Linked DNA regions of Homo sapiens: region 2 is linked to region 1. Evidence: fine-mapped expression QTL. A gene starts in region 1. The other region holds a variant in brackets. All regions are shown on one strand. Distances are from middle to middle.

Region 1 (15,823 bases):
CCTAATTTCTTAGCCTGCTCAATTTGGATTCTACTCCAAACAATTTCTCCTCACCAGGGGCTTTGATCCTGGAATTAGGGCCTGCAGAATCCATTTTCTTCTGATTTTGTCTACTATTTTCAGATTGGCTGTGCTCTTTCCAATGAGGATCTGTTGGAAATTTGAGGATTCTCTTGTTCTCAGAGCTCCATTGCTTTCCCTCAAACTTCCTTTTTTTTTTAAATGGAGTCTCACTCTGTCACCCAGGCTGGAGAGTGCAGTGGCATGATGTTGGCTCACTGCAACCCTCCACTTCCTGGGTTTGAGTGATTCTCCTGCCTCAGCCTCCCAAGCAGCTGGGATTACAGGCGCCCGCCACCACACTCTGCTAATTTTTTTTTTTTTTGTATTTTTAGTAGAGACGGGATTTCACCTTGTTGGCCAGGCTGGTTTTGAACTCATGACCTAAAGTGATCTGCCTGCCTTGGCCTCCCAAAGTGCTAGGATTACATGCCTAAGCTACCGCACCCAGCCCAAACTTCCTTTTTTATAGTAACTGATATTATGTGGGCCTTGTAATTATTGGGAATTAGGCTTACTCACCTTGTCACCTAATTTTACTCTAGATGTGTGTGTGTGTGTGTGTGTGTGTGTGTGTGTGTGTGTGTGGTGTGTGCTCGTATGTGCATTTTGGGGAATTGTTATCCTCATCTCTTTTTCTGGTTTTACATAGCACCGCATGAGTTAGAAAAACTATGCCATCATGTATTCCCAGATTCTACCTTCAAATTTTTACCTATGAAAATTTTGAATAACATCCTCACCTCCTACCATTGTTTTGGGTCTGCTTTATTTGATGGTTTATTTCAAGCGGTGGAACAAGGTGTAAATTCGGGATAATGTGATTGAAGAAAGAAACAGCTTGCTGAAGTAATTTTTGAAAGAACAAAGACAAAACATTGCTAACATCGTTAGCGTAGTAGGCAGTACAGCAACTAAAGGAAGGTAAAGATGGAAGTCCTTGGATTTTGTTGCATTTTTTTCAGGTAGTGAGAGAAAGACAGATAATAAAGTGGTAGTAAGTAAGATGAAAAAGGTGCTGTTAATTTCCAATGCATTCTGCACAGTCATGAGACCATTTACAAAGTTGCCTACCTGCCTCTGTTTCTGAGTAGTTTGGAAGAGCTTTTACAATGCTACATGGGCAACATCTGCATATGCCTTGGCATAGGAAAATCGTTCCTTTTCTATGAAGTTAGATAAGAGAAAACCTTCTGAATGTTTTTTTAGTTCAGTCAATCTAATATTTGAAGAGTGTTGCAAACTTTTCATGAGAGGAATAGATGCATTTATTTATCAGTTCTCCTCTATTTAATAACACTGGTATAGGAAAGGCCATTAAACACTTTTCTCCAGAAAAATTACTTTGTAATAATCTCTGGCTCATCTCTCTTACCATGACAAGTGTCCATTACTGCCCTCTGCTGCATGAACTTGGACCTCTCAGTATTTCCGACTAATAATCACTATAAGATCACTACTTAAAACAAACAATAATAACCATTACTAACCATTAACAGGAATTCTTTTGTTGTCAGAGAATAATACCATGATGGGTTGTCTTTTCCATCCCCCACATATAAAGATTTACTTAGAGGCATTCCTTAGAATGATTTCCTTAGAGACATTTTTAACATTAAATAGTCCCTGAAACAGAAAATTGGGTATGATTGTGTCAGCTATATTCAGGAAGTGTTTCACAAGTGAGTGACAGATATCATCATACAAATTAATTTAAAATCAGCCATCTTAGGCAGTATCTACACTTGGCTAAAGAGAATGAAGAGTTTGGACTATAACATGTATAACTTTTGGTTAGAACTTGCAGCTGGGGGCTTTTCTAATGAATTACCTTCTAAAATTATGCTAACATATAGGAGGAACACGAAGTAATTTAGTGAATTTGGAAGTTGTATTTAGAAGGCTGGAAATTAGCTTACCTTTTCATGTTAAAAAGAGCCCCAGTTTATAGCTATAGTCCATATATTCCTGGCCTCAGTGGTAGCTACCTCCAGTGTTAAGTGGTGGGGTGAGGTACATTGAATATTATAAAACAAAAAGATGGTTTTAAACTTTCAGTACTTCTGTTAATACTGAGCATATTTATACAATACATTTTGATATATAAAAGGCAAATTGATCAAAGGTTTGAGAGTTTCATTTTATTATTAATTTAAAAATACAACATTGATTGGCATTGGAGGACAAGGCTAACCCAACAATTTCAACTGTAACATATAAACAGCTGTTATGTTCTTGGAGATATTGATTGTTCTTTGATATATACAAATGTTCACATACATTCTTGACAATAACAACCAAAATACATTTTATAAATTTCAGAAAAAAACAACAAAAAGCTAAAGTAAATTTGAGCTTATTCCAAATCAGATTTCTTAATAACTTAAAGACTAAGTGGTCAAGTGCACTTATATTAAAAGTGATTTCATTACCAGTTTCAATGAAATTAGATATCCCCTCTGTTTTCACATATTTAGCACTGCCTTGAATTAATTAAAGGTACTGTGATTCCAAGGAACTATTAACTTTCTGAGTAAATTAAACAAATCAAATTAAATAAATGGACAAATTAAGTTAGTAACAGAACAACTTGCTGATTGCTAGATCACTGTAGTTTTGTTTGCTGCTTCCTTTTCCTTTGATCTACCATGATTTCACTTTTCTATCATGTACTGATATGTTTTATTGTTTCCATCTTTCATTAACCAGGCATTTATAAAAAATGTAGAAATGACTTTATCTTCTTGGCAAATTGCTTGCATTCTCTCTTTTCCTTTTCAGGGCCCCAGTGGAATATTGACAATCACAGTCAGACTCAGTTGGCTGATTTCTAATTTAGCCATAAGTCACACAAAAAGAGAAGGTGAAAAAATGAATATCATTAACACAGATCCAGAAATAAAATGGTAATAAAAATATTTAAATAATGTTTTCAAAATAAACATATAACACAGTTCTCCTTTGAGTTTAGGAACTCTGAGAAACTGCTGTATGTCTTGTGTACAGAAATGTTACTCTTTTCCCAAGTGTTTTAATATGCAACTACATGTATAAATCTATCTGTTATGAGCTGAATTTTGCCCCACGCCCTGCTGCCAAGTTCATATGTTGAAGCCCTAAGTCCTACTACTTCAAAATGTAACCACATTTGGAGATGAGTTCTTTAAAGAGGCAATTAAATTAAAATGAAATTAGGGTAGGTCCTAATCCAATATGACTGGTTTCTTTATAAGAAGAGGAAATTTGAACACAGACGTAGGGATGACCACAGGAGGACACGGTGAGAAAGTGGTGATCTGTGAGACAAGGAGAGCAGCCTCAGAGGAGCCCAAACCTACCAACACCTCGATCTTAGACTTGTGGCCTCCTAAATGGTAAGGAAATGCATTTCTGTTGTTTCAGCCACTAAATCTGTATCATTTTGTTATGGAATCCCTAGAAATCTAATATGCCATCTGTAGCAGAGGGCCTTTTTAAGTTCTCTGCTATATGATTTTTAAGGCCCAAGAGTTTTACTATATTAGGCAAAGCTTCAATACATGTAGTCATGTACTTATATTTTTGGTGTTCTTTGCAACCGTTTACCAAATGACTTATTTTAGCTCCTTCAGAGGAATCTGTGTTGGGGCCTGCTACAAGGGTGAAATGGCACCTCCAATTTCTTCTGATGGGTTCCCCTTTTCTTGTGTGCCTTCCACATTATTGCCATAACTGGGCATTCGTTACTACAAATGGAGACACACTGTGCTGCAAGCTACTCTTTGCTCAGTATTATTTTAATATTGGACTGTACATTCATTGTCTTAAAGGGATGAATTGTGGGATACAAATAAGAGACACTATATGTAAAGTGTTCAACAAACCTGGCACATGTAAGGCATTCAATAAATCTGACTATTATTATTACTTTTATTATTGCTGTATATTCTAAGCCAGTTACCTATAAAATTCCTTAAGCTGACTGCAGCATAGTGTCTTGACTTTCTTATATCCCAAACTATTTTTGAGCCTAGGTATTATGATTTATACCTAGAGCATCAAAAAGTAGGATCTATTACAAATGAATCTTCCAAAGATAAACTAAGCACATTTTTCATTTTCTGTTACCAAGCCCAGTTATGTTTCAAAGACAGATTTTTGAGTTGCCTCTTGAGAATCTATGTCTTTATTATTTGCAAGTAGTTTTTCCATTATTTTTAGTCTGCACCACAGTTTATTTTATGTGTGGTAAGAGTATAGTTAAAGTTTTGCCATATTCATTAATCATAGGTTCAGATAATTGATCAGGAATAAACACATTGTACAATGAATGGATTAGCTACCCTGCCTTTTCATTTTTAATGTTCCCTACTTTAAATGACCAAATCATTTCTGACTAAATAAATTGCCATATTTTTAATAGTTTCCCCATTTGAGTAATGTTCATTTTGGAAATTGTCTGTAATACTAACAGGGTAGAAATCAATCCATCATGTATTTGGTGGGTTGACGGCTCACAGAGTATTTTGTCCAATAAAACAATAACAAAAACAGGCACTTAAAATTTATCTTTGATCCAAGAGCTGGACACCTCTCCTCTGAAATATTATAAAAATTAGCACAGTTCTCAACTTACTTTGAGACCACTGCAGAACCCTAGAGACCCGAAAGGAACAGAGTCTGAAAATCACTGGTCCAGATTATCTAAATGTTGTTTGTTTTGTTGCTCATCAAGATGAGATTCCTTGGAATTGAACCTCACTCAAGAATTAAACATATGATTCTTTCACTGCCAAGTATTACTTGGTACTTTAGTACTGATTCAAAAGCTGAATCTTGAAAAAACCTGCCAGAACTCAGCAGTGAGAACTTACCAAAAAGGATATGCATTGTACAGAACTAACAAAAATTTTATATCGTAAAGGAAAATGTTTCTTATTAAACATTTGATGACTTTTTCTAATTCCACCTCCATCTATGGTCACATATATGCACAAGGCTCAGCAGAAGTTTTTATCTGCCTGAGTTTCAGATTATGTTATTTGCATTTTTTTTATTGTTTGGGTTCAGGCTCAAGGGGTAATATCTGTTCAGTAATCCTCTTTCATTTAAGTGGCAGGTGAAGTATGGATAAGATGACTAACTCGTTAAGGTTCGAAAAAGAAGCCGTTGGCTGAGCAATTGTTTCAGATTGATTTACTGTGAAATCTTCTGACCCATTTCACTTGTGCATGTTTTTGTAAGCATAGCTAGTGAATCAAATGTAGGTGATGAGATCTTTTTTATTAGCTGGTCCTGTTGTCCATGAGACCTTATCAAGATAGCATCAACAACTGAAACTAATGCAGGGATCAAATAGGAGATGCAATTTTTTCATATCTGGTATGAAAATTATTCCCATCAAGAAACACAAAAAATTTTCACAATATCAATGCAAGCTTACATTTGTTACCAGGTATTTAGAATTAATTTGCAGCAACACATAAGACTGTTGTTCTTAGGCAGAGGAGAAACATAAAACTCTCAAAGTATGAGTATTACTAGGCTACAGAGCCAGGTAGCTTGGTTTACTATGGAGAGGGAAAACCCATATAACCTTATTTTTCAGATCCTTAACATCCATCAAGTTTCAACCATACATTAAAGATTTTCATGTCTATTCTGTGTGTGCAAGATGCTTTGCGGTCCTGTGGGACCTACCAAAGACAATCTTACTTCCCAGGTTTGCTATTCTGTTCTTATTGACCTAACATGACCATCACTAGGGTCATTTCTTTGGGTTCAACGACAAATGTAGAAGTATTGTCTCTATGTACACCATTAAAATGTGCATTTAATTCTGAAGGAAAAAAAGAACTCTGGGGGACATATCTGATCACTTATATTCCCATAGTCACATGAATTCAAGCCAGCTTGGCTTGAATTCAAGTTGCAGCTATCCTGTGACAGATTGAACTCTGAGACTGGCATAATTCAGCAGTGGATGAGAATAAAGGCTCACAGCAGCAACTTCTGAGAGGGGCTAGGAGCAGATTTTAGTATATTAAGGTGTCTACAGAGCTCCAAGCCCCTTTAGAGGCAAGACCCCCATTCATTCACCTCTGTGTCCTCAGGGCCCCATACTTGCTTCACGTACGGGGAATGCATGAACAACTGCTAAAAAGGCTATTGTAGGAAATATTCACTAATGCAGGGAGAGAGGTAATGGGATGAAAATTAGTAAGCTTCAGTAAACAAGACTAAGGTAACAAGTTATATACTTAACTTACCTTTGGGATTAAGTATTCAGAAGGAATCCAGGATCCAGAAACAACTGCTGAGAAAGTAGTGGCTTTTCTATGGAACCAAAATGGCCCCACAGCTAGAGGAGCAAAGATAAGAGGGAATGTATGGCCAAAGGAAAAAATGTCCATTAAGGCACTTTCTTCTGGACAGGAAGGTTGTACATCCTGCTTTTGTACAGTCTTGTTTTTAAATATCTACTCTCTAATTATATTATTGCAAATGGCATAAAAATCTACTTTCCCAAGTAAAATATGAAGCTTTTGTCTTTACACTTAGGAAAACACACACAGGAAAAACACATATGGGGCCATGACAGTAATCCACAGGATTATGTTTATTTACAGTTAGTTGATTTTGTGTGTGCATATCTACTTGTCAACATATGGGTCATGTATGTTTGTTTCTGTCTGTCAAAAAAAATTTACACAAAGCATTTGGGTCATGAATGAAATTAGTTTTTGACTGCTTTTTAGCCTAAGGCGTAATTGTGTATGTTTTAGCTTTTGATTCTATATGTCTGATTTTGTTCTATATGGAAGAATGTTTGTGTAAGTAGATTTTATGTCGACTTTTAATTTAACTGTATTTGTAAAAAATTGCTTTTGGAACTTGCGGGGTTTGAATAAGCCTCTGAGATAATGTGTTTAGGATGGTACTCAGAGCTGAGAGTAAATGTGTTGTGCTTGATATATGTTTTCTGTTTAGCAGTACATGTGAGTAAAGTTAGGCCTGTGTATGTGGGATATTATTTTATTTAGAGGTAAAGAAAGAAGGAAGTGACAGAAATAGGCAAAGCATCTTCACATTTTCTCATGGTTCATTTGGGTTTGTTCTTCAACATATGGTCAAAGTCTACACCCTTCCAAGTGAATGTAGAGTGATCTGTTGCCTACATGTTTAGCTTCTATCTTTTCCTTTTGCTCTAAGCTACTTTTCAAAAATATTTAAACCAGTATACTCCTAACTTAAGTTTCTCAATTTCTGTCATGCTTTCTGATTGGCAAATCAGAATGAAGGCAAAAGATATACTCTTCTGTAAAGTCTAAGCTTGGAATCGTTAAGTACTTATTTATAGAGTAACGACCCATTTCCTTGCCTTTTATTAGTGCCTAGAATGCCTCACTTAACTTTATAAACTTACAAATTTATTACTGGGCATATATAGATGTTAAATGTTCTTACTACAATCATGTTATATGTATAAATACATATATATATTATACATGTATATAAAGTCACACACATATAAAATTTATATCTATATAGCATGAGATCTACCTTCTCAATAAGTTTTTAAAAATACAATGCATTATTGTTGGCTATAGGTACAATACCATATGACAAATCTCTAGAGTTTATTCATCTTAGTTAACTGAAACTTTATGATCATTGATATAGTAACTCCCCATTCTCCTCTCCTTCCAATTCCTGGTAACCATCATTCCAACCTTTGATTCTATGCATTTAACTATTTTAGGTACCTCCTATAAGTGGATTTGTCTTTCTGTGATTGGTCGAGTTCACTTAGTATGATGTCCTTCAGGGGTCACCCATATTGTTATTCCTGGCATATTTTTAAAAAGTGGAAAAAAAACCCCACACACTAAAATGTGAAAAATCTCTACCTTAAAGAAAGGAAATTCAAAAGATAAGAACACATGCCAGAGGGTGCATATTTTAATCCCCGTTTCCTTGTGTATTAAAAAAAAAATCTGAAAATGAAGAATTTCAGGGCAGACAGACTCATAGGTCAGGACTGAGAAATTTGCAAAACTGGAGCTGTCTGGGAGAAAATAGCTCTAAATCCACACTTTAGAACTCTGCGTTGTTTTGGGGGAAAATAAGAGTCACCAACGTTCTCACTTAGCGACAAGTTTAATTCGTACTCATGGACATGCGCCAGGATCAGGTGTGAAAGCTGTGAAATCTAGGTCCAAAAATTCTGAAGAGGATGCTGCTTGTATCCTCCCCTGGCGGCTAGCTGCCTTCTAACTTCAAGTTGTGGCTCAATGCTTGGATTTCTCTGCTCCTGGACATTAGTGTCTGCGAAGCAGAAATGCAATAACTTTCGAACAATCCCTTGCTTTGCTTGGAAAGTCTCGCACTTGGCCACCAGACATCACCGAACTCAGCGCTTGTCTCCTGCAGCAATTCCGTGGCTCGCTGAACGGCTGCCACTGGCGCCCCCAAGCGCCAGCGCGTCCCAGTCGTTCCCGGAGCAGCCTTCGACCTTCGGCCGAAGGGAATTGGACCTGGAGAGACCCGGGGGCTGACAGGAATGGCTTCTCTTGTAATTCACTGGGGCTAGAAGGCAGGAAGCCAAGGAAGACAGGATCTCAAAGGCTCCCTGCCCCCGTTCATTCCTATCTGGGATTTCCTATTCGCAAAAAGAGCAGTTGCCTGGCATGGTAAAGATGCTCATTCGAGCTGTGAGGTCCAAACCCTTGGAGCGTACCCAGAGCATCCCCTTCTTCCCAGTCCCTCAGAGACATAGACATATTCTACGAGTGCGGCGGGGCCCGGGGTTCCGAAGGAGGAGACTAAAAAGACCCAAATCGAACAGGCTCATCTTTTCCCCTCTTTGGTCTGCCCCTTTCCTTCCAGACCCTCTATCCGGATCATTGGCCACCCCCTGGCGCACCTATGTGGCTCCAGCTTCACACACTCCCTGGGAGGCACAGTCTAAAACCAAACGTGAGCTCACAAAGAACACAATACTAATGAGCAGATGCGCAGATGCTCACTTCTCTAAAGCTTCCATAGGGCTTTTCCAGCTCTCCTCGCGGAGTCAGGGGCTGAAGATGGGTGGGAAGATCTAAGAAAGGGTGGCAGCGATCAAGTGGTGTCAGCTTGCCCCACTCCGTTTCCACCTTTGGTCTCTGCCAGTTTCCAAAGACCCCTCCAACCGCTGGAGTTGTTGTCAGGAATTAGGAGCCCCTATGTTCCATTCACCTCATGGAAAAGCTAGATCCCCCTTTTCCAGTAGTTGTGGGTGGAGACAGAGCGGGAGGATGAGGAGGAGGAAAAGCTGGAGTGAAAGCCGCAGAAGCAGAAGCAGCACGCAGAGAGGAGGGGGGCGGAAGCGGTGGGGAGTGAGAGAAAAATTTTCACTCTTTGTCACTCTTGAATTGGGGGCGGAGGTAAAAAAAAAAAAAAAGTCCTCACTGTGGGAAGCTATAAAAAGCAAAGAGGACTGGGGAGAGAGCAGAGAGAGAGAAAGCGGGAGCCCGCGGCGAGCGTAGCGCAAGTCCGCTCCCTAGGCATCGCTGCGCTGGCAGCGATTCGCTGTCTCTTGTGAGTCAGGGGACAACGCTTCGGGGCAACTGTGAGTGCGCGTGTGGGGGACCTCGATTCTCTTCAGATCTCGAGGATTCGGTCCGGGGACGTCTCCTGATCCCCTACTAAAGCGCCTGCTAACTTTGAAAAGGAGCACTGTGTCCTGCAAAGTTTGACACATAAAGGATAGGAAAAGAGAGGAGAGAAAAGCAACTGAGTTGAAGGAGAAGGAGCTGATGCGGGCCTCCTGATCAATTAAGAGGAGAGTTAAACCGCCGAGATCCCGGCGGGACCAAGGAGGTGCGGGGCAAGAAGGAACGGAAGCGGTGCGATCCACAGGGCTGGGTTTTCTTGCACCTTGGGTCACGCCTCCTTGGCGAGAAAGCGCCTCGCATTTGATTGCTTCCAGTTATTGCAGAACTTCCTGTCCTGGTGGAGAAGCGGGTCTCGCTTGGGTTCCGCTAATTTCTGTCCTGAGGCGTGAGACTGAGTTCATAGGGTCCTGGGTCCCCGAACCAGGAAGGGTTGAGGGAACACAATCTGCAAGCCCCCGCGACCCAAGTGAGGGGCCCCGTGTTGGGGTCCTCCCTCCCTTTGCATTCCCACCCCTCCGGGCTTTGCGTCTTCCTGGGGACCCCCTCGCCGGGAGATGGCCGCGTTGATGCGGAGCAAGGATTCGTCCTGCTGCCTGCTCCTACTGGCCGCGGTGCTGATGGTGGAGAGCTCACAGATCGGCAGTTCGCGGGCCAAACTCAACTCCATCAAGTCCTCTCTGGGCGGGGAGACGCCTGGTCAGGCCGCCAATCGATCTGCGGGCATGTACCAAGGACTGGCATTCGGCGGCAGTAAGAAGGGCAAAAACCTGGGGCAGGTAGGAAAACCCCCAAACACATTCTTCAGACAGAAGAGGCAGGGGCCAGCTCTCTTGGGCTAGCGGTTTGCCATTGCATCTTGCAACATTCGGAGCGTGGCCCCAGATACAGAGAACAGGCGGCTGGGGAGGGATTCACCGAACAGGGTCTGCGTGGGCGGGGGGTGTCTGGGTGGCTGCTGGTCCTGCACTGCACGGAGTCAAAGGGTTAGGATTCTGTCTCGCCTTTGCTCTGGGGCGTGGGCACATATCAAGATCTAGTGCTTTCCTGTGGAGAAAGTGGTCAGGATGGTCCTTCCATTTAACACTGTGATGCAACTGATGAAGATGTTAATAGCATTTAACCTATAGCACCTAATAACGTGCCAGGCACAGTTCTAAGCGTTTTACATATTCACTCATTTAATCTTCACAACTCTGTGAGCTAGATGCTGTTGCTTTCCCATTCTGCTAATGAAGTAATTGAGGCACGGATTGATTAACGATTTGCCCAAGGCACACAGCTAGTATAAGTGGCAGAGAGGGATTTCAGTCTAGACATTGAGATACTGGGCGTTTAACCATTATATTTTACAATCTGGAGGGGACATTACTCCTTTTCAGGGTCTCCTTCCCTTCCAACCACTTACTCTCTTCAAAGAAGTAAGGTCACAGACAAAACAACTCCAGTAGACGCGCATTTCTCACTCACGCAGAATTGTACATAAATCACCCGGAAGGAAGCAAAATGATGAGATGACAATGACAGCGTCGTAGGCGCCAGCGATACAGCAGGACACTGAAGGCGTTTTTGAGAGAGGGAACTTTCCGCAGGCGCCTCTGTCTCTGTCATACAGACAGATAGATTGAAAGCCACTTGCAAACTGTTATACAAATAGACACGCACAGAGACGAGCGCGCACACTCGGTACCAGTTGTGGCTGGCGCGCTGTGGCCAGGAGAGGGGGCTCTGTGGGCACTGGGAATCATGACAGCTCCCCCTTCCGCTCCTTTTGTGGGAAGCCAAAACTGAGAAAGCCATTTTACCAATGGCACACGCACCTCGCACAACACAAGTGTCAACCCCTGGCAGCGGCCCACGCCCCAGAGATCCGAGTTTCCTTGGAACCGACTGATGCTGCTGTTTTGCGCGCTCTCGGTGTCCTCCGCCGCCCCTGTCCACAGCGCAGCCAGCCGGCTGAAGGTTGGTTGAGAGGGCCGAGCCATTCTGGGATGGACAGAGAGACAAGACCCGGGCTTGGCCCCCTACTGCCCTCTCACGGGGACAATTTTGCAGTTTTGCTAGTTTTGCAGTTCCAGAACTCTTCCCAGAGCTTTGAAGTGTGAACCGTTTCAGCTATCCTTTCAAGGGATTACAAAATCAGCAATCAGATTTTTTTTAAGGTCTCAGGAAAAATAAGAAAGTACATATACGTTCAGGCAAACATAACCGTTGCACATCCTCACACACGTGCACATGCCTACGCGCTTATGTGACCACTTTCCTTCGCTTTTTCTCTCCTGCGAGTCACCCCAGGATTTTCAATAGCAATGGTCCTAACAGTTTCTTAGAAGTCTGTCATGAAATGGAACAGGGATTAGAAAGAATGGGTGCTCTCAATCCAAATCATGACTCCTCTAATGCTACTGACTTCAAATTTCATGTTCCCAGTTGAAGAAAGCTTAATGTGTAGTTCCCCCAAGGACACAGGGAAGGAAACCTCAATAGTCCTGAGGTTCCTTTCCATTCTAATCTATGTATTTTCTGGGAATTTTTGTAAAGCGCTTTTTGTTTCTGTTCCACTATTGGGCCAACATACCTGATGTTCCTCTGTCAGAAAATCAGTTACATGCGTCGTTTCATTAGCCTTAGCGTTACACAGGGGAGACTGAGGGATGCATCCCAGAACCTAGCTTCTTCTTTATGTTTTAATACTGTATCTGTATATAAATCGGTATAAAATATGTTTTTGTGGTGCTACCTCTCCAAATAGCTACTTAATTATGCTTCTTAAAGAGTTTGGAAGTCTACTTACATCGCCTTAAATTGAGAATTTATTTATTTATTTCACAAATGAGTTGAATTTCTTATATGCCTTTCATAACATAGCAGTTCTATGGAATATATTTTATTATATTTACTTAACTGGAATCCTAGATTGTTAAAATTTGACATTAGGCTTGTGAAAAAAATTGTTAACATATTCAAGATGAAGGTAAAACAAAATAAAATACTGGGTTGAATAGCAGGAGGCTAGCTGGCAAATGTGAAAATTTTATTTTGTGTATTCTTCTTTAACGAATGATCTAAAGTATGTACTGTTATGAAGAAACAAATAGTAAAATATTTTCTCTTTGAAGTGAAAAGAATAATTCTTTGGATACTTATGAGTCTCTTTATCTTTTTTATTCTATAGTTATGTGGTCACCAACATTCTTAGTATTATTATTTTCAGAAATGAAATGGAAATTAGAAAGGCTATTACAGGGAAGATGTTATTTCCTTTTGTAGAGAAAAACTCTAGAATAGAAAGGTAGCTGAGCTGAATTTTTATGCATCACAATAGTAAATATGATTGAAAATATTGGAATTAATGTGTCAACTAATCAAATTAGCTAATCATGTAGTATCATCCTAAGACCTAATAAGTTTTATTTCCCCCAATTCCCTTTATACTTGACAGATGATGTTGAAATATATTCCTTTCAGGGATACAGGAGGAAGAAGCTCTAGGATGCAGCTTCAAGTAGGCAGATTGGAAACTCAGTCCTTGGTGTTCTTTCTCTTAAATGGATGTTGAAAATAGCCTATTTTAATTTTTCAGGATAGAGAATTAAATATTGCCACTGCAGAAGAAATTCTTGAATAAATTTAGTAATTCGTTAATCTACAAAAGTGAAAATGAGACTATATGAGCTCTATAGTTTTATTGAAAGTTGCCTGATTTCATATAAAGATAAACATTCTTATTTACAGGAATTCTACTTGTTCCATAGGCAAGGTGGATTATTTGTAATATCACTTCTAGAAAATGTGGCTTTGAATTTTAGAAAAAATTTAGAGAGAGAAAATCCACTGTTCTCCAGAGGTGTTACATTTCTCAATTTAAGGTTGGCTTTCAAAAACACAGTATGAGTTATAATGGAAACTGACATAGGAAATTGAGAGTGATAGTATTCAGATGATTGATACAGAATTAGCAAAAAATGAACTGCTGAATTATTCGCATCAATGTTTTAATTTGCCTTTTCATTTGCAGCTATTGCTAATAAGTACTGCATGTATGTGCTGTATATGTATACAGGCTAAATTAAGTTTCAGACTGTTACTAGTATATTTACATAATATATAAATATTTATGCATTTTAATATATATGTCAATTTCTAAGGATACTGTTTCAGATGTTCTAAATTAAAAGTAATTTCAAACAAAATCTTCAATATCATGTGAATAAATATATTTTGATGAAGTATGCCATTTCTCGATACTATCTCTAAAGTTTGAGGTGTTGACTTTTATGGACCACCTTCAAAACAAATTTTAAAAACCCAAACTACTAAAAAAATCAAGCTTTGCAATTCACATATTTTTCTGTGTGAATGAAAAACCTTTGGATTTGTGTTTGTAATTGCTTATTTTATTCTTCTCGTTTTGTCTTTCTGAGACGGGCAGATGAATTTAATTTGAATGCAATGCAGTAGCATTTTGCAATTCTTTTAAAAGTGACTAGAATAGTGATATTTATAGTTATATTTTAAATGTAGATAAACTTTCTGGCATGTGTTTCTAAAAAGAAGCTATGGTTTAACACAAATTCAGATTCTATGATTTTCTGATATGACTGGGACACTTCAAGGATAGTGGTTTGGATGAAGTTATGTTGTGAGAAAAGAATTCTTGAAATTCATTGAAAGAGAAGCTTGAACGAGTTGACTAAAGAGCACTAATATTTGTAGACTGCATTTTCTTTAATGAAAGTGTGCTGTATCTGTATGCACAAACATTCATGAAAGTGCTCACTGAAATAAACTATATACTCTAATATTCGGTAAGGGATCTCTTTACTTTCTGAAATTATCCATGACTTTTTTTTCTAACCTCAGCCCAACTTTCTCCTGCTTAGGAGTAAATAATCTGATAGCCTCTCTGGACATTGACTAACACTAAACACAATCAGGAAAGCAAATCATTTTTACGATTAAATTTTAAAAAATAAAGGAATTTGAAATAATCTACATTAACGTTCCTTTCCTCTCACCATGAATTATAGAAAATTGATAGTTGATACAAGTGGAAAGTTAGTTCTTGAATAGCAAGAAAAGTATTTTAATGATAATCTAATATGAACATCCATCATTTTATTTTTGTGTTAGACTAGAGAGCGCAAGAGGACAAAGTTGCTCAAACTTACTCCAGCTGTGACTCTGACCCTGTCATAATCTTCTTGAATATTCTTCTACAATACAAACTTTTGCACCCTCTTCTCCTTTCCAAGATATTTTGAAACTTATAATTTTAAGATTAGGTAAGGCAATGTCATAGAACTATAGCTAGTATATTCTGATCTAGGAAAATATTGGCTCTTCTTCATTTCCTTACAAAATTGCTTTAAATGTACATTAAAATAATCGGTTACATTTTAGAAGAAATTTATAATAGTTAACATATTTACCATTTTAGACTCAGTCTCTAATGGCTGTTTATTCTTTAGTATTGAATTAACAGCAAAATCAATTACAATCAAATTTCTACCTGTGACTTTCTGACGGCCTGTTGGAGTTGTTTTACTTCCTTATGCCTCTAGTCACTTGTGCTCACTTATAACAAGGAGATAAACCCGTTTTTAGTTATTTATCTGATTGTTCAAAAGGTTTATGTGATATTTGTGTCTGCCTGAGCCCCTTACTACGTCCTTTTTTTAACAGTCCAAAAGCATAAACCAAAAGGAAGTAAGGCTAATCATAATTGATAGACATATTGCATTATGTAGCATCGCTTTAAGATTACACAGAAAGATTTAATATAGAATGCATAAGAAAAATTTAGTATTACTATTTAAGGTAAGCAAAGGTCAATTTTCTGTTCCTCCTCTGTCCACTCTTGACAGGAACTAGAGCAGAATAACATATTTTTCTCTAATTGTAGTGTTAGGACAAACATAAAGCATTCTTTCAAAGAAGTCAGTCGATACAGCATTTGGTAGGTTCTTTTCTTTGTAATGGCAAATTTAATCAAAGAAAACTTTAAAGCAGAAAGATTGCAATATCCTGTTAAATTTTTTTTAATAGAAGTAATTAGTTTATGTATCACTAACAACAGAATTGCTACTCTAACATGTATTCCACAACCCCTGAATCTGCACAACAGATTA
Region 2 (15,823 bases), 160 kb before region 1:
ATGAAATAAGAAAGTGTGTGCACAGGCACACGCGCACACACACACACACCCCGCTGAGCATAAATTTAAAAAGCATATTTGTTAAGGGTTGAGCATTGTGCTTCAACACTCTTTCTTTGAAGGAACTTACTATATTTTTTTGTAGTCAATAACTTCTACTTTTTTAGTACTTTTTGATATTATCATTCTACCTTAAGTTGGACATTTCTTCACAAAGCAGCTCAAAATATTTGAGTGGCAGCTTTTTTTAATGATTCAGGGATTTATTAGGTCATACATGCAAAACACACTGCTAATTGCATTAGCAAAAGATCAACGTAAAAACACTCCACAATTCTGCAACTGTCAACTTAAAAATTTTTGTTCTAGTGGTTGAAAGGTCCTCCCTTGTACTCTTGCCAGTGAGTTAAGTTGTATAGAACATCGTCAGCACCAGCACAGTTTACAGAACCTCACAAACCCAAAGGAACATCATTAGACTAAGCAACTACAAGGAAGCATATGTCCACATGCGGGTGAGGTAAAGAGGGTCAGTATTGGTCAAGTGACAGTGTCAGTAATCTGGCAAGACAGCGATGTTAAGAAGGTTCATAGTTTAAGAATTATCTAAAATATTTTAAAAACTATAAAATTGCAACACATGATTTTTACACCTAGTTACTGGAAAACTAAGGAAAGCACTTATTAGCTTTGAATAAAGTAACATGGAAAGCACTTTTACCAATCTACAAAAAAACCTTCTAATGCATTATGAGAAAGATTTCATAATACAAGGAGGCATATTGCTCATTAAGAAAGGGTTCTATAAGAAAAGCACTTACTAAGTTAGAGACTAAGGGAACGACCAGTTTAAAGATGAATTAAATGCCCAATTTGGGGGGGGATGGCTGATGTAAGAGAAAGGAAAAGCTTAAGTAAACACTTCCTGATAATACCAACCTTTCTTTAATCATCTACTGCATTTGACAGAAATTAACCTTTTAGAGGTTTTACCCTTGACACTTTTATTCCTTGTACCCGCCGCTTCTGGTCTCAGCGCCCTGCTGCTGCCCCTGCGGCCCAGCGAGCGGCCCAGATGCAGGCCATCAAGGGTGTGGTGGTGGGAGACGGAGCTGTAGGTGAAACTTCCTACTGATCAGTTACACAACCAATGCATTTCCTGGAGAATATATCCCTACTGTCTTTGACAATTATTCTGCCAATGTTGTGGTAGATGGAAAACCGGTGAATTTGGGCTTATGGGATACAGTTGCTCAAGAAGATTATGACAGATTATGCCCCCTACCCTATCCGCAAACAGATGTGTTCTTAATTTGCTTTTCCCTTGTGAGTCCTGCATCATTTGAAAAAGTCCGTGCAAAGTGGTATCCTGAGGTGGAGCACCACTGTCCCAACACTCCCATCATCCTAGTGGGAACTAAACTTGAACTTAGGGATGATACAGACACGACTGAGAAACTGAAGGAGAAGAAGCTGACTCCCATCACCTATCTGCAGGGTCTAGCCATCACTAAGGAGATTGGTGCTGTAAAATACCTGAAGTGCTCGGCACTCACACAGCGAGGCCTCAACAGTGTTTGACAAAGAGATCCAAGCAGTCCTCTGCCCACCTCCCGTGAAGAAGAGGAAGAGAAAATGCCTGCTGTTGTAAATGTCTGAGCCCCTCGTTCTTGGTCCTGTCCATTGGAATCTTTGTACACTTTGCTCAAAAAACGGTGGAACCTTCACACTCAATGCCAACTTTTTGTTACAGATTAATTTTTCCAGAAAACCATTTTGAACCAATCGGTAAGTTTAAGGTTTTGTTTGTTCTAAATGTAAGAGTTCAGACTCATATTCTATTAAAATTTAGCCCTAAAATGACAAGACTTCTTAAATTCTTATTTTTCAAAAGCCCCATTCTTGCTCAGATTAAGAGTTGCCAAAATACCTTCTGAACTACACTGCATTCGTGTGCCAAGAACACCGAACACTAAACTGTGTAAAGACCTTCGTCTTTCAGAAGACTGTAGCTTCTGCAGTTAGGAGATGCAGACACTTGCCAAGTAGTTGTCAGATGCGTGAAGCAGAACAGCCTCCTGAATGAAGCGTTGCCATTTAACTCGTGGGCTGATTTATCAGCCCATTTTCATGAGGTAACATTGTATAATGGAATGGGTGCGACATCTCAGCTCTTTGGATAAGTCTTTTTGATTTCACAGTGAATTTTCTAAAAATTAGTTGGCCAACTTTTGCTGAGATTTTGAACAGAACTCATGTGTTTCCTCTAATGAAGTATTCTGTTTAGTTGTGGGTGTGCTGGGTGGGGTGTGTGTGATCAAAGGACAAAGACAGTGTTTTGATAAAATATTTGAGTAGCAGTTTCTGTTTACGTGAGCTCTATACAAGGTAGTAACTGCAAGATGTTCTTATTCACATTGTGGAAAAGTTTTAGGTGCCTATTATTAAAGTGCTTGCAGGTTAAGAAATGAATCATGGTGGGTCCCTGGATTTTCTGAATATTTACACTCTTCGTATAAACATGAAGTCATTGGCAGTTATACAGGAAAAATAGTTCTTATAGCCCCAAAATATTTCAGGTTACATATTTTCTGTCACTGATTTCCCCTTCTCTCTATAGGAATTATAGAAAAACAATTACTATAAAGCCTTACTAATTTTCAGGATCAATTACTCCATATGAATGTGGATTAAACCATACAAAACATGGTTTATGATTAAGGTGGCATCATATTTTGATCTAATAATCATTAATCTCAATCATGCTCATTGAGATACAAATTAATATTGTGCATATGTATCTATTACCACAGGTCTTATTTCTCAAGCTTACTAACCAGAAAACATGAATGGATTCTGAAACTGTTAGCAGTAGTTAAGTTTACAAACTTACAATCAGCAAGATCTAGGCTCAAATCCCAACTTCCCATAATATTCGCCAATGACTTATTTTTTTTCAAAGTCTCAGTTTCTCTTTTTGTATAATGGTACTTATAACAGTAACTATTTCACAGGGTTGCTATAAGGATTGGAAAAAGTGATGCATGAAAAATGCTTAGTATACTATATGTTAATTCTTATGTTTTATTTCCTTTCCCATTATGAAAAGCATTTTCAAATGTGTATATTCTTTAGTTGTTTTCCACCAGAAAGTTTAAGAAACTTTCAGTTTGATTAATTGGCATTTTTGAAATCCCTTTCATTTGAACTATTTGGAGTATTTCTTTAGGAAAAATTTTCATGGGAGAAGAATGCAAAATAAATATTACTCTAGGCGTGTAGTACTTTAACAAAACAGATAATTTTTATCTACCTCTGCTCCTGAATACAGTCTATTGGTGCAGAGTGTGTGCCTTTTTAGCCTAAAACACACCAAACTTAGATAAGTGCTCTCCGTGACTTATGCTAAGGAAGACAAGAGATATTTGTGAACCTAAAAGGAATTGGACCTATCTCAAGCCTGTTCTTCAGACCTTAACGTATTTTTATTTTTTTAAATCTAAAAGACAAGAAAGATATAGAACTATAGGGGTAAACAGAAAGTCAAGTGTGTAAAGCCAAATAGTGGCAGGACTTAAGCAGTCTTCCAGAGAACAAATCAAATTTATCAATTCACAACTGCAGAGAATTTTGAATGTAGGTGCAAGTTTTCCAAGGCTTTATGTGATTTTTTTTGGCTTTACCACACTCCACCACAGGATTAGGGTCTCATTTCATGTCACCAAAGTTTTATAGTTGAACTCCTATGCCATTTACTTACAACACTTCAATGACAAAACATACTGTATCTTATATTAAAGTGATTTTTGTTTTTACTAGGCTATAGCTTCCTTGAGGACATGGATTATTCCTGATCCATTTATGTATCTATTGTAGAGTCTATCATTGTGCCTTCTAATATTTAAGCTGCTGATCAATGTGTTTCAATGAGTTGGAAATAATATCAATGAGTTATTTGAATTCAGGAAATATGTAGACTTCATGGTACATTGTCTGGCATAGAGTAAATATTTCTCCTCCTTGCAGCTTCTGTGATAGTTTTTGCTATGTGGGTGTATCAGTCCATTTTCGCACTGCTGATAAAGACATACCTGAAACTGGGAAAGAAAAGAGGTTTAATTGGACTTACAGTTCCACATGGCTGGAGAGGCCTCAGAATCATGGTGAGAGGCAAAAGGCACTTCCTAACATAGTGGTGGCAAGAGAAAAATGAGGAAGAAGCAAAAGTGGAAACCCCTGATAAACCCATCAGATCTCATGAGACTTATTCACTATCACGAACATAGCATAGGAAAGACTGGCCTCCATGATTCAATTGTTCAGTAAGAAGGGGTTCTATAAGAGAAGCACTTATGACGTTAGCGACCCTACCCCTGGGTCCCTCTCACAACACATGGGAATTCTGGGAGCTACAATTCAAGTTGAAATTTGGGTGGGGACACAGCCAAACCATATCAGTGGGTGTGCAGGTGAATCCAGATATTCATAAACAAGTTTATATATGGGGATAACAGTACCATAAATCTATATTTATTAAGAATACAAGAATCTTCCATAACCTAAAATGATTTAGATTATTGAAGAAGAGGATCTTATGAATCTCATTCCTTTACAATATTTAAGTGTCAGCAGAGTACTATTAATAAAAAATTATGCCCACTTAAACCCAAATCTTATTTTAAACAATTCACTGTGGAAAATAGAAGATATTTCCAAGATTTCTTTTAATTATGAAAAGTATTCCAAAATCTTGCAGGGGAAGATACAAAATTGTTAGTGGGTTAGGGACTGAAAAATGTCTGTGTGCTTATATTTTGGCATCTTCATCAACCATGGTAAAATAATCAGTATCTTAAATAAAGTGAGAAAAGGAAATGACAGCTATCTGTGTCATTCTCATCACTAGGGGCCTTCTCAGCTCATCACCCTGCCTTCTACTTTACTTTTTCATCCCTAATAACTGTGGCTTACCAGCATGTTCTCTATTACGTCCTTAGGTCCAATTCACAGGCTAAACTTATTCACATCTCACATCAGCTTTTCAGCTCCGTGTACTCCTTAGGAATCTCTCAGAATGTCTTTGCCTTGGCTCTGTCATAGAACAATATTCCTTTTGAAGAAAAATCCTGGCTGGATCCCTGTTATCATCTAGTTCCCTTTCATTTGATGAAATCCTAGATCCCTCTTTTAGAGAAGCATTCAATTGAAGTTGAAATAGAGTAAATTCATCTGTATAAGGTATATGTGAAATGGCTCTTATTCTGTGGCGTCCTGGAAAGTAGTGGTGGCTTTGGTTGCTGTGTGTTTGAAACTAGCTCATCAGGAAGGCAGGTGCCTGATGAAGAATAGAACCCTTTTCAGTATAAACACATTCCTTTAGTGTTATATCAGTGAAACAAGGCTTTGGGAGTAAGAAGTCCTGGGTTCAAGTGCTATGGATGCTGTGGATGCCTTGCCCCATTGCCCCTGGGCCCACCTGAGCTTACCTGCATCTGTGATGAATAGTTTCCTGCAAGCTGATTCTTGCCTCAAGTAGGGCGGCTCTCCACTACTCATCTGAGGGCTTTCACTAGAGCCTTGGGAGCTTACCCTGTGGCTCAGAAGTGCAGGGGAGTTAAGGTCGCCAAGGGCAACCCTCTATCCACGTGGAATGGGACATAGTGGATGGAAACACAGTCATCCAATTCCTGGGTGGGAAAATTCAGAGGCCTACTCCACAAGGTTTCTCAGTAGCTCCCCAGCAAGACTGAGCCCTAGTTGCCACAGTAGTAGTCCATTCATTCATATATCTTTATTGAATTTTTTCTTCCTTGTCTCACTTTCCCTATTCTCTCCTTCAGATTTCTGAGGGTCACTTCTTAAAGAAGCTACCTGAACCCAAGTCTGTCTTGAGATTTGCTTTGAGAAGAACTCAAACTAATACATGATCCTAACTATACACTAACTAGTTTGAGACGTTGAGAAGGTTATTTGATTGTTCTAAGTTTCTTGACCTGTCAAATGAGACAGTTGGACTAAATGGATAATTTTGAACATTAAAATATAAAAATAGTTAAAAGTGATGAATACATTTTTAGGTAGTTTACAGGGTATTTTTTTGTTTGTTTGTAAGGCAGACATTTACTTGTTTGTAGATCACTGAGGCATATTCTTGACATCCTGGGTTTCCTTAGAGCATGATTTTAGAATAACTGCATTAGATGATTTTTAAGGCTCATGGAATTCTGGGATTCCAATCATGAATAAAGATCCTTGAGGAGCTTTCTACCTCCACCCTAATCTCTTAGGCTATTTCCCAAACTCCAAACCCACAAAGATCCAGCTTAGAATCTTTCATCCCCACACCATCTGTGCCTATTACCAATTGGTTGTGCATGTGTGCACACATGCATGTGCACATACGTGCATGTGTATTTCCATATTCCAAAAAACAAATAAGAAATATAATCTCCCGGCTTGTGGCATTCTATTGTTTCCCAGAAATTTTAGTATAAAGAATATAAATTCTGATGATATGCTGGGTGTTGATGGGGGCAAAAAATGTTGACCTCATTTAAAAAATGTTTTTTTACTTTATCATAGGGGGCTTTCAGACTTTTTTTCTTCTATTTCCTATAGAGGAACAATTTAAGTAATATTTTCAGCTTGAATACAGACCATATGTATATGGAACTTATAAATGCAGTTACATACCACATAATGATGTTTTGGTCAACAAGGGACTGCATGCATGACGGGGATCCCATAAGATTATAATACTGTGTTTTTACTGCACCTTTTCTGTGTGTAGATACACAAGTACTTACCACTGTGTTACAGATGCCTGCAGTATTCAGTTCAGTAGCATGCTATACAGGCTCTTAGCCTAGGAGCAGTAGGCTATACCATATAGCCTAGGATTATGTAAGTACACTCTATGATGTTCACACAATGACAAAATCACCTAATGATACATTTCTCAGACTGTATCCCCATTGTTAAGCAATACATAATTATATTTTAGGGAGTCTGTGTGCTGTAAATTTTTTTTTCCAATTTCAAATCTTTGTTATTTATGTAATTCTCAAAAGTTGTTTTCCTGTCTGCACCAAGGTATTTTGACTAGAGTTTTAAAATAAAACTATTTGTCTTAGAAGTATCCATAGGCCTCTTTATTTCCTCCCTTTCCACACTTTTTGCCTGTGCTGGGATCTGAACTTTCATCAGCCTATCTTCTATTATTTTTCTCAGAATACGTCAGTTCATTCCGTTGCCAATCTTCCTAGAGACACTTTCTCCTCATCTAGACCATCGTTTAGCTTGTACAAATACACAGGAATAAAAACCATTTCTTGGTATTTTTACTTTCTGGAGGAATACTTTTTATCTCATTTCCGTTGTTCATCAAGTCTTTGCCTTTGTAATCACATGGTTTTTATTTTTTTTTCTTGAAGATAAATGGAACAGAGAATCAGATTCAAGAATTAAATTTGGAGGAGAGATAGAATAACCTCTACCCAAGTTTCTGACAAATGTACCTATCTAGATAACACGTATACAGGCTCTGTTAGGAAGGATTATTTCTCCTGAAGATAATTCTTAGTGCTGTTAGCTCACCATTTCCTAGTGAACCTGAAAGTCAGTGAGAAAGAAAATAATTTATATAACCGTCACAACCCGGAAACAGAGTCCCATATTTCCAGGGGTGTGGATGGTTGCAAATTCCTTTTACAAGTTCTGTATTTACCCAGCAATTTTCTATAGTGTTTCAATATTTTGAAATAGAGGACAGTCTAATGGCTATTTAACATAGCAGAGAACAGAGAGAACACACATTTTCCTTTCCTAGGTGGTTTTCCTTGAGCCATTCAGCTGCACATATAGCCCTTTACGTTGTTTTGTTTCTGAATGCCAACTTTTCTTTCCTAAGGGGTGCACCCTACCACATCACTTCATCTCAATATAATCTGCACTCAAACCATGAAGGCTGAGGAATGTGTCTCTTATCCCCTACACCTGAGTATAAGTTCCTACAAGGCAGGAACTCATCTGTCAGAACTGAGCAGCACGTTGGGTGTGTGATAGGTCCCTAATAGGTGCTGGTTGAATAAATCACCAAATTACTAGAACACATGTTTTAGACGTTGCTTTTGGATGAGGCTTCATTAGGAACTTTCTGAATGTCTCAAGATATTGTGATTTGGCTGCTTTTCAGAAACTTGGAATAGCTTTTTGGTTGTTTCCAGTTCCATGCATCAATTATGTATCTGAAGTTTCTCTCCTACTGTGCATGGCTTTGATGGCACCCCAAGTTTTGAGCTTTCTGTATTTCGTTGTCAGATTATAATACTGTATCTCATTCTTGGTCTGGCCTGTTCACCTCAGACACTGATGTGAAAAACAAAATCCTTTTCATTTACTTTCCCTCTGTCATGTGCATCCCCATGTTTAGCTGTGGTCATGTCGAGTATCAGCCCACACCCTGCAGAGATGACCAAAGGTCCTGTGATAGGTGCCAGGGCAGTGGTAAACTCACCACAGACTAGTCTGGGGACATTCCAGGGAGGGGAACAACTATTTTCCCTCCTGTTTTAGTTCCAAGATCCTGCAGCAAATGAAGCCAGCATGCCTCTGCATTGTGTTTTATATTATTTCTGGGCAGGAATCACTATGATGTGTTATCCCTGTTAGCACCAATGTTCCTAACAGTTGGCCAGCATATAGCCATAGGTAGAAAAGTTGACAAGTTTCATATGTTTTTCTTCACTTTGCCTCTTCCTATTTTTCCCTTCTGTGGACTTTTCTCGGCACATTTCTTTCTAAATTGTTTTCGTTCTTTATTATCTTATCACGACATCTATTGAAAGATGTTGCCAGGTCAAGATCTTAGGGTGGTGGATAACCCCTAGAGCCTCCTTAGAGTCACATATTCAGTTAGGATCTGCTTTAGGGTATTAGGAATAGTGAGGTAGCCCCAGTAAAATTTCTACATTTGTTCTCTTCCTGTTTCACTAGCCACCTCCAGTTTGTCTTTACAGATGACTGTGAGGTTGGACAGGGCCTTTCCCTTCTCATTTGCTATATTTTCAGATGGTGACGGATGACAACAATAAAAATAATTATCTGCTGCATGCTAAATCGGTGCCAGGCAATGTTCTTTGTCTTGTACATAGATATTTTATTTAACTCCCACAGTGACCATATGGATTAAGTGTTATTCACCTAATTTCTTTAGAGGCCTCTAGTTGCTGTTCTTGTATG[C/T]TTACTAACCTGATATTTATGGCCCCTTCCTGTCATAATATGTCGATTTTCTGAGCCTTAATAACTTTCCCCTCATTTTAAAAATATCACATTTATTATATACCCTATTAATTGATGGAGATGAAGAGGATTATTACTATTTATGTTATTTCATTTTCCCATTCAATGATTTCGATGCTGCCTATAAATTCAAGGTGGCAAAGGGAAAAAAAGGTAAAATGCATGTGGAACCGTTTCTCTTTTGTTTTTCTCCTTTCTAAGGATACCATCCTTCCATATTTTCTCCTTACTCCTGTTTTTCTCATCCCTCTCACCCTAGCCCTAACTGCAGCTTCACATCCCTCTCACCCCCTTTACCAACTTGTCTTTTAAACATGTGACTTACTGCTAATTCCCTCGGTTAGTTGATGAATACTCTCAGGAACAGAGCAGTGAAACAACTTGCCAAGTTTACAGAAATTAGAAATACGCCAGAGAAATATATGGGCATTGGAGCTTATCCTTTGTGAGGCCCAGCTCAAATCTTACTGCCTCTGTGGAATCTTCCCTGAGTCCCCCTCCGCTTTCTCTAAAGGCAGAGTTATTCCCCCTGCCTCTGTTATCTTGGGTCACTATATATATCCCCCAGCACAACATTTATCTCAGGATATTATGACTGGAGGTTTATTTCTTTTCTCTGTTAGATTGTGAGACTCTTTATGGCAATCACTATGACATTTCTCCATGTATACCCTGGGTCTAGAACAGTGCTTGGCACATGGTAGATGCCAGATAAGAGTTTGTTCTGTGACAACTACATCCATGCTGCACAGTTGGCTGCTATTGTATTCTTGTTTTCTGAGGTCCTGCTTCATATGGATCTTGTTGTTTAGTGGGCAGTGATCAATAGAGTAGGGTAATCCTATTGACTCAGAAAAATATATAAGACAATGTGGGTCCTAATCACAGAAGTTTTATAACAAAGATTCCAATTTTAAGTTCGAAAGCTTCAACTAAAACCAGGCCTAAATCATTCATGGAATCTCCTTTACAAAAACTATAAAAGGAGTTTAAACATGAAGACCAAATTTAAAATGAAGAGTTTCATATTTATGGCTGAGGTTTTCTCAAGGCAGTGAGAATTTTGTGTACACACACACGTATTTGCTGCTAGAGGTTATTTTATGTGGTTATGTAGGCTTTCGATTTACATATAAAATATTACCAAATTGTTTACATCCATGAATTTGTGACATAATTTCAGCTTGACCTGTGGTAACTTTCCCCATGTAGGCACAGAAGGAGACACACCTTTATCCCAGATTTTAACTCATAAGCAGAAGTAACTTGCTAAAGGAGTCAGGAGAGAAGAAAAAGAGAAATAGCTATGCTTCTAATAGAAGAGAGCAAGCAAACGTTGATTTAATCAATTGATTTAGTTTTAAGTAAGAGAACAGATGTTTTCTGTTAGGTCCCTGGTGAAAATTCAGTAGGCGCCAGTGATACTTTAGGATCAGTGGCTTCTGATAAAATTGAAAGAAAGGTCTGGGCTGTTCTTGCTAAATGGGCTTTTGCACAGCAGGCCTGTCACTGTGGTATGACTTTTCTCTTGAACGGGAGTTAGCACTCCCTTCCTTGTGCATTCATGCTTACTTTCTCACTTCCCATTCACATTTGCCTTGCATCCCTTAGAATATGATATTTTGCTACTCTTACGTTGTTTGAAAATATTAATTGGAAAGAATTATATTTTCTACCTATTTGAGTCCAGTTTTCTGTCCCAGCAGAAACACTTATAGTGTCTTTTGACTTTCCGTGGGTTATAACCTTTCTGAGTGGTTGAGTTTCAGGAGTGGGTGAGATGTCTGTCTCCTGATGCTGTCTTCATAACCTACCCAACTCCCTGAGCCTTGCTATGGAAACAACCAGAACCCCACTCACTAAAACTTCAAAGGCTTCCTCTGAAGGTTTCTGAGTCTCCATTCTCCAAAATGCCAGCTTTTCTTTTTCAGCTTCTTGAAAATCACTTGCAGTAATATGAGCCTTTTCCTTCTCATAAACACTCCAATTATGTTCATATTCTTGAAATTTCGTAGCTGAACATAATTTGTTCCTATGCTTCAAGTAATACCTCATCTTCATTGTCACTCCTTTTTCCCAATTAGCCACCCTCTCACCCATCACTTGACAAACAACTCTGCAAGACTCTAAACTCTTTATGATTAGGAAATGTCCTATAAGATTTTAGGTCCTAGGCAGAGCATGGCTCCTAGTATGTCAGCAAATGTTTGTTGAATGAAGACAGATGTTTCTTTCATACTGACTTATTAAAACCCGTGTTTAGGCAGGCTACCTTGGTCCATCATAAACGTCCTACTTAAGAAATCAAGATAGCTAGATAGTCAAAGAAATGTGTTCCTTGGTCATATTTTCCATAATGAATTCTCCTCTTATTGGCCATGCATTTTGCATTATCTAATCTATACATCCATTTGGTCTATACATCCATTTGCTTACCATCAGTCTGTATTGAGCAACAACAATAATATCTAGAACTACACAATGATTATTCTTGCAAAATAAACTAGCCTTGAAAACTAATATAGCACTAGCATGCTAAGAAGGAATTTTACCGTCTAGTAAGTCTATTCTATGGGAGATGAAATAAGTGACCACTTTTTGATATCTGCCCAGAATAGATTGGCACCTACTTGGAACATTATTCTATTGCTTGACTAAATTAAGTGGAAGGATGATAAGGATACTATTATGACACATGGAAACTCTTCCATAGTTTCCTTCCCAATGCATCTGTAATGGGTTTGTTCCGATTTTCACCCCTCAGTGTCATCCTTTATCCTGTCCTTCAAACTAAAACATCTGCGGTAGGAGCTGGCGAGTGTTTCTTAAGCAGGAGTTCGAGGAATGCTTATTTGAATGGAGTTGACTTCTTGCTCTCCCCCAGGGACAGAGGTGTTGATGGTTTCCATCAGTAATGACCTCATAGGAAAGATGTGTGCATTGCAAAAAGCACCACTACACCTGGCACTGATTCATGAAGAAGCTAGAGCCTGAGTATAGGTGATCGCCAAGACAGAACTACTCTTTCTCCAATCTGGGCAATTCGTTGGCCCCAATCTGGAAGCACATTGGGAAAAAACATAGCAGAGTCTGTTTAAACTGTATCATCCCTCTGGAAACAGAGACACCTGATTTCCCAGGCTTTATTTAATATTTAATGTGCATAATTTAGAAATGTTAAAATAACTTTTCTCCTGCTTAAAAAACTCACAGTTAGTTACTTATTAACTCTGCACGCATTCACTCATTAACCAACCCACATTTGGCAAACAACCGCTATGAGGTAAGCACTGTGTGAGCAACAGAAATACAAGGGAGAGGAAAACCGGAATTGCCCCTGCCCTCATGAAGCCTTTAGTCTGTGAGAGAGATAGATCTCAATCAAATAATCACACAATTGTACAAACGGAGATAAATATGATGAAAGGAAAGAATGTTCTAAGAAAACATCTAGCAGAACAACTTTCATATAGTTTTGGGTCAAGGAAGGATTGTCTGAGCTACAACATTTAAAGGAAGAATGGAAGTTAACCAGATGAAGTGGGTAGAGAGGATAACTTTCCAGGCATAGAGAGCAATATGGGCTATGAGACCCTGTTGCAGAAAGCAGCATGGAATATTCAAGAAGTGTGTAAACATGGTTCAGATGAATCTTGAAGGGTATGCAGGTACAAACCATTGTTCAATCAAGTTTAGCCTAAAGCTGCCTCCTTACATGTTTTAAGTGTGGCCTAAAGGTTTTTCTGTACACTGTGAACTAGAACAAGTAGAGGTGTAAACAGGCCGTAGCCTACACTTGTGCCAATCATCGAGTTTTGGCCAATCAAATGTAGCCAACTGCTCAAACTGTGTTCAAATAAGGCAAACCCCAACCTGTAATTAATCCAGCTGTTTTTGTACCTCACTTCCTTTTTCTGTACATCACTTTCCTATTTCTGTCCATAAATCTTCTTCTACCACATGGCTGCGCTGGAGTCCGGAGCCTACTCTGGCTTGAAAGTCTCCCCGATTTGTGAATCATTCATTGCTCAATTAAACTCCTTTAAATATAATTCGACTGAAGCTTTTATTTTATCACCATGCAGATATTTATTCTCTTCCTATTTTTCTTTTATAACCTGGCTTGTTTAAACTCCATTCCAGTGTCCCACTAAAAAGTCCAACTCCAAGTGGAGGGCAGGGAGACTTGATGAGCAGATGACCTTGGCTGAACCTTTGCCTCTTTCTAGCACTGTGTAGGTGTCAGTCCCTGAACTTATGAACGTCCTAAAGCAATAATAAAACCTTTCATAGAATGAGGAATACTAGGCAGAGAGGAAATCTAGCCAATTAGCTTATCTATTTTCTTTCTATTGTTGGGGCTGGATCCTTAGAAAGAACAACTTCTCTACAAAGGGGACATCATATTCTTTTAGGCAAGAAGAACTGTAGCTCATACCTTTTGTTCCAGTATAATATATAATATATATTATAAGTCCTTCCCTTTTGTTACAGTTAGAGTTATGGTTACCTTTTCTTTTGTGAGATTCTCAGTAAAAACAAAGACCAGCAAGTAAAAAACTCCTGCAAAAAATTGGTTGCAAAAAAAATGTATCTAAATCTTCACTCCTCCATGTATGCACACATTCTGCAATAAAATTTTGAAGCTCCTGTCATCATGAAGTGGAGCCTATTTCCCCACAGTTTGAATCTGGGCTGTCCTCATGACTTTCTTTAGCCAATAGAATGCTGTGGAAGTGACTGTACTGAGTTCTGAGCCTGGACTTCCAATGGCCTTGCATAATTCTGCCCTTCTTTCTTGGAATCCTGCCCCTGCATGATAACAAACGCAGGCTGTTGTGATGGAGAATAAGGGACCATGTGGAGCAAAGCTGAACTGTCCTAGCTATCTCCCTGTACCAGCCAATCAGTCCATCTCCCTGGCCTGCTAGTTGACTATAGATGCTTGTGCAAGCCAAGATCACTTAGCTGAGTCTGGCATAAATTGTACCAGCAGACTCATGGGCTAAATAAATTGTTCTTTTAAGTCACTAAACTATAGAATAATATTATGCAGAAAAATATTTCCTAGTGATTACCTATTTTTATTTTATTTAATAATTTATTAAGTTATTCACAAAGTATTTGAGTACTTTCTATATGCAAAGCACTGTTTTAGGCTTTAATGAGATAAGTGAATAAATAGATATAGTCTCTGTCTGCAAAGGAATGTGATACAACTCCTGAGAGGAAGTGAACAACTGCAAAAGCAAGGTGAAGAAGTGCTAAATTTGGGCCAAGTTGCCCAATAGGCGCAATTTTAAATGTAGCTTTAAAATTTAAGTGTAGCTTTAAAATCCTCTAATTGATTGATGAAAGACTAGCCTCCAGCAGGAAAAAACAAGATGGTGTGATCTGAGAACAGGGGAAGCTTCTTTGAAATCAGTTTCAAGTGGTGTGGTCTGAGGGTCTTTACTGAAAGCAGTAGGCCATCTCAGCTATTCACTTTCTTCTGCTGAGAATAGAAGTAGGACCTACCAATAGAATGCTGTCTTTCATTGTTATATAATTAGAAACAAATATTGCACAGTACACATAAAATAATAATGCCTACAGAATTTTTAATACATTGAATATATTTTTGTAAAGATCTCACCACTGTAAATTTTATTCTGAGTTTATTCCAATACAAGTTCTAAGACTTTTTGCCTGAGCATATAGTCACCGATTTCCAACAAATGCCAAATAGCTCAGTATTTCCAAACATAGTATTTCAAGAGCTGTTTTCAAGAACTGGTATTTCAAGAACTGTTTTCGGTGACCAATGTTTCTTTCTAGAGCAATGTTGAACACATAATAGAGACTCAAAAATAATTGTTAACTTGTATTAAACTAAAAGCTTTCCATTTTGTTAGGAATGAAGGAATAAACAGTTGACTAATTTCTTGTTAGTTTTGTGTTTCAGTAATCTCTTACATAACCAAATGGCTAAAGAATAAAATATTCTGGCTAAATTAAATAGTCTGACTAGCAAAAGACTAATATTTACTTTATATATTATGGGTTTACTTAATAAAAATAATAAAAATTCAGTAGTAATGCTAACACTAAAATAATAATTGAGTTTGCTTTTTTTATAGTTATCAAATTTCATTGCACAATATAGTAAGCAATATATAGTATTATTGAGATTTACGGATGTTTGAGTTCCATACAAATTTCTTACAAAAAGCTGTTACCTATAATATTATACCCATGCAATCAGAAATCAAATTATAAGCAATCCTGTATTTTTCACTTTTATCTTACTGTTTTAAATATTAGTGCACTAGTGTTTAATGGTCAAAATGGGAAGTTAATGTGTAATGTAGAATGTCCCTTCCTGCATTGAAAAGAATTTATTTTCTCCAGATGTGTAACAAGTCTTTTATATATTTTACTATTTTGTCTGTAACCATGTAGTCATGCATACCACAAATGTCAGGTGCTTTGAAAAGATTCATTTGGAATTAAAACAGTCTAACAGAGAGAGAGAGTTCAAATA

Direction of the effects. Positions count from the first base shown, and alleles are read on the strand shown. Sizes are in standard deviations (SD) of each study's normalised expression.
In carriers of allele T in region 2, the expression in cerebellar hemisphere of the gene that starts at base 9,528 in region 1 tends to be lower than with C alone (small effect, 0.36 SD a copy in GTEx).

What was found. PIP is the estimated chance that this variant, and not a neighbour inherited with it, causes the effect.
Region 2: its variant is fine-mapped to the expression of DKK2 in cerebellar hemisphere (GTEx, PIP 0.96).

The regions. Positions count from the first base shown.
Region 1 is chr4:107,030,018-107,045,840 of GRCh38, reverse strand. DKK2 (dickkopf Wnt signaling pathway inhibitor 2) reads left to right here and starts at 9,528. Exons shown (of 4, transcript NM_014421.3): 1 at 9,528-10,471. The coding sequence starts at 10,250.
Region 2 is chr4:107,189,177-107,204,999 of GRCh38, reverse strand. It overlaps the pseudogene RAC1P5. Among named protein-coding and RNA genes, the nearest start is that of DKK2, 160 kb to the right of the region's middle. The variant C/T (reference allele first, on the strand shown) is at 9,241.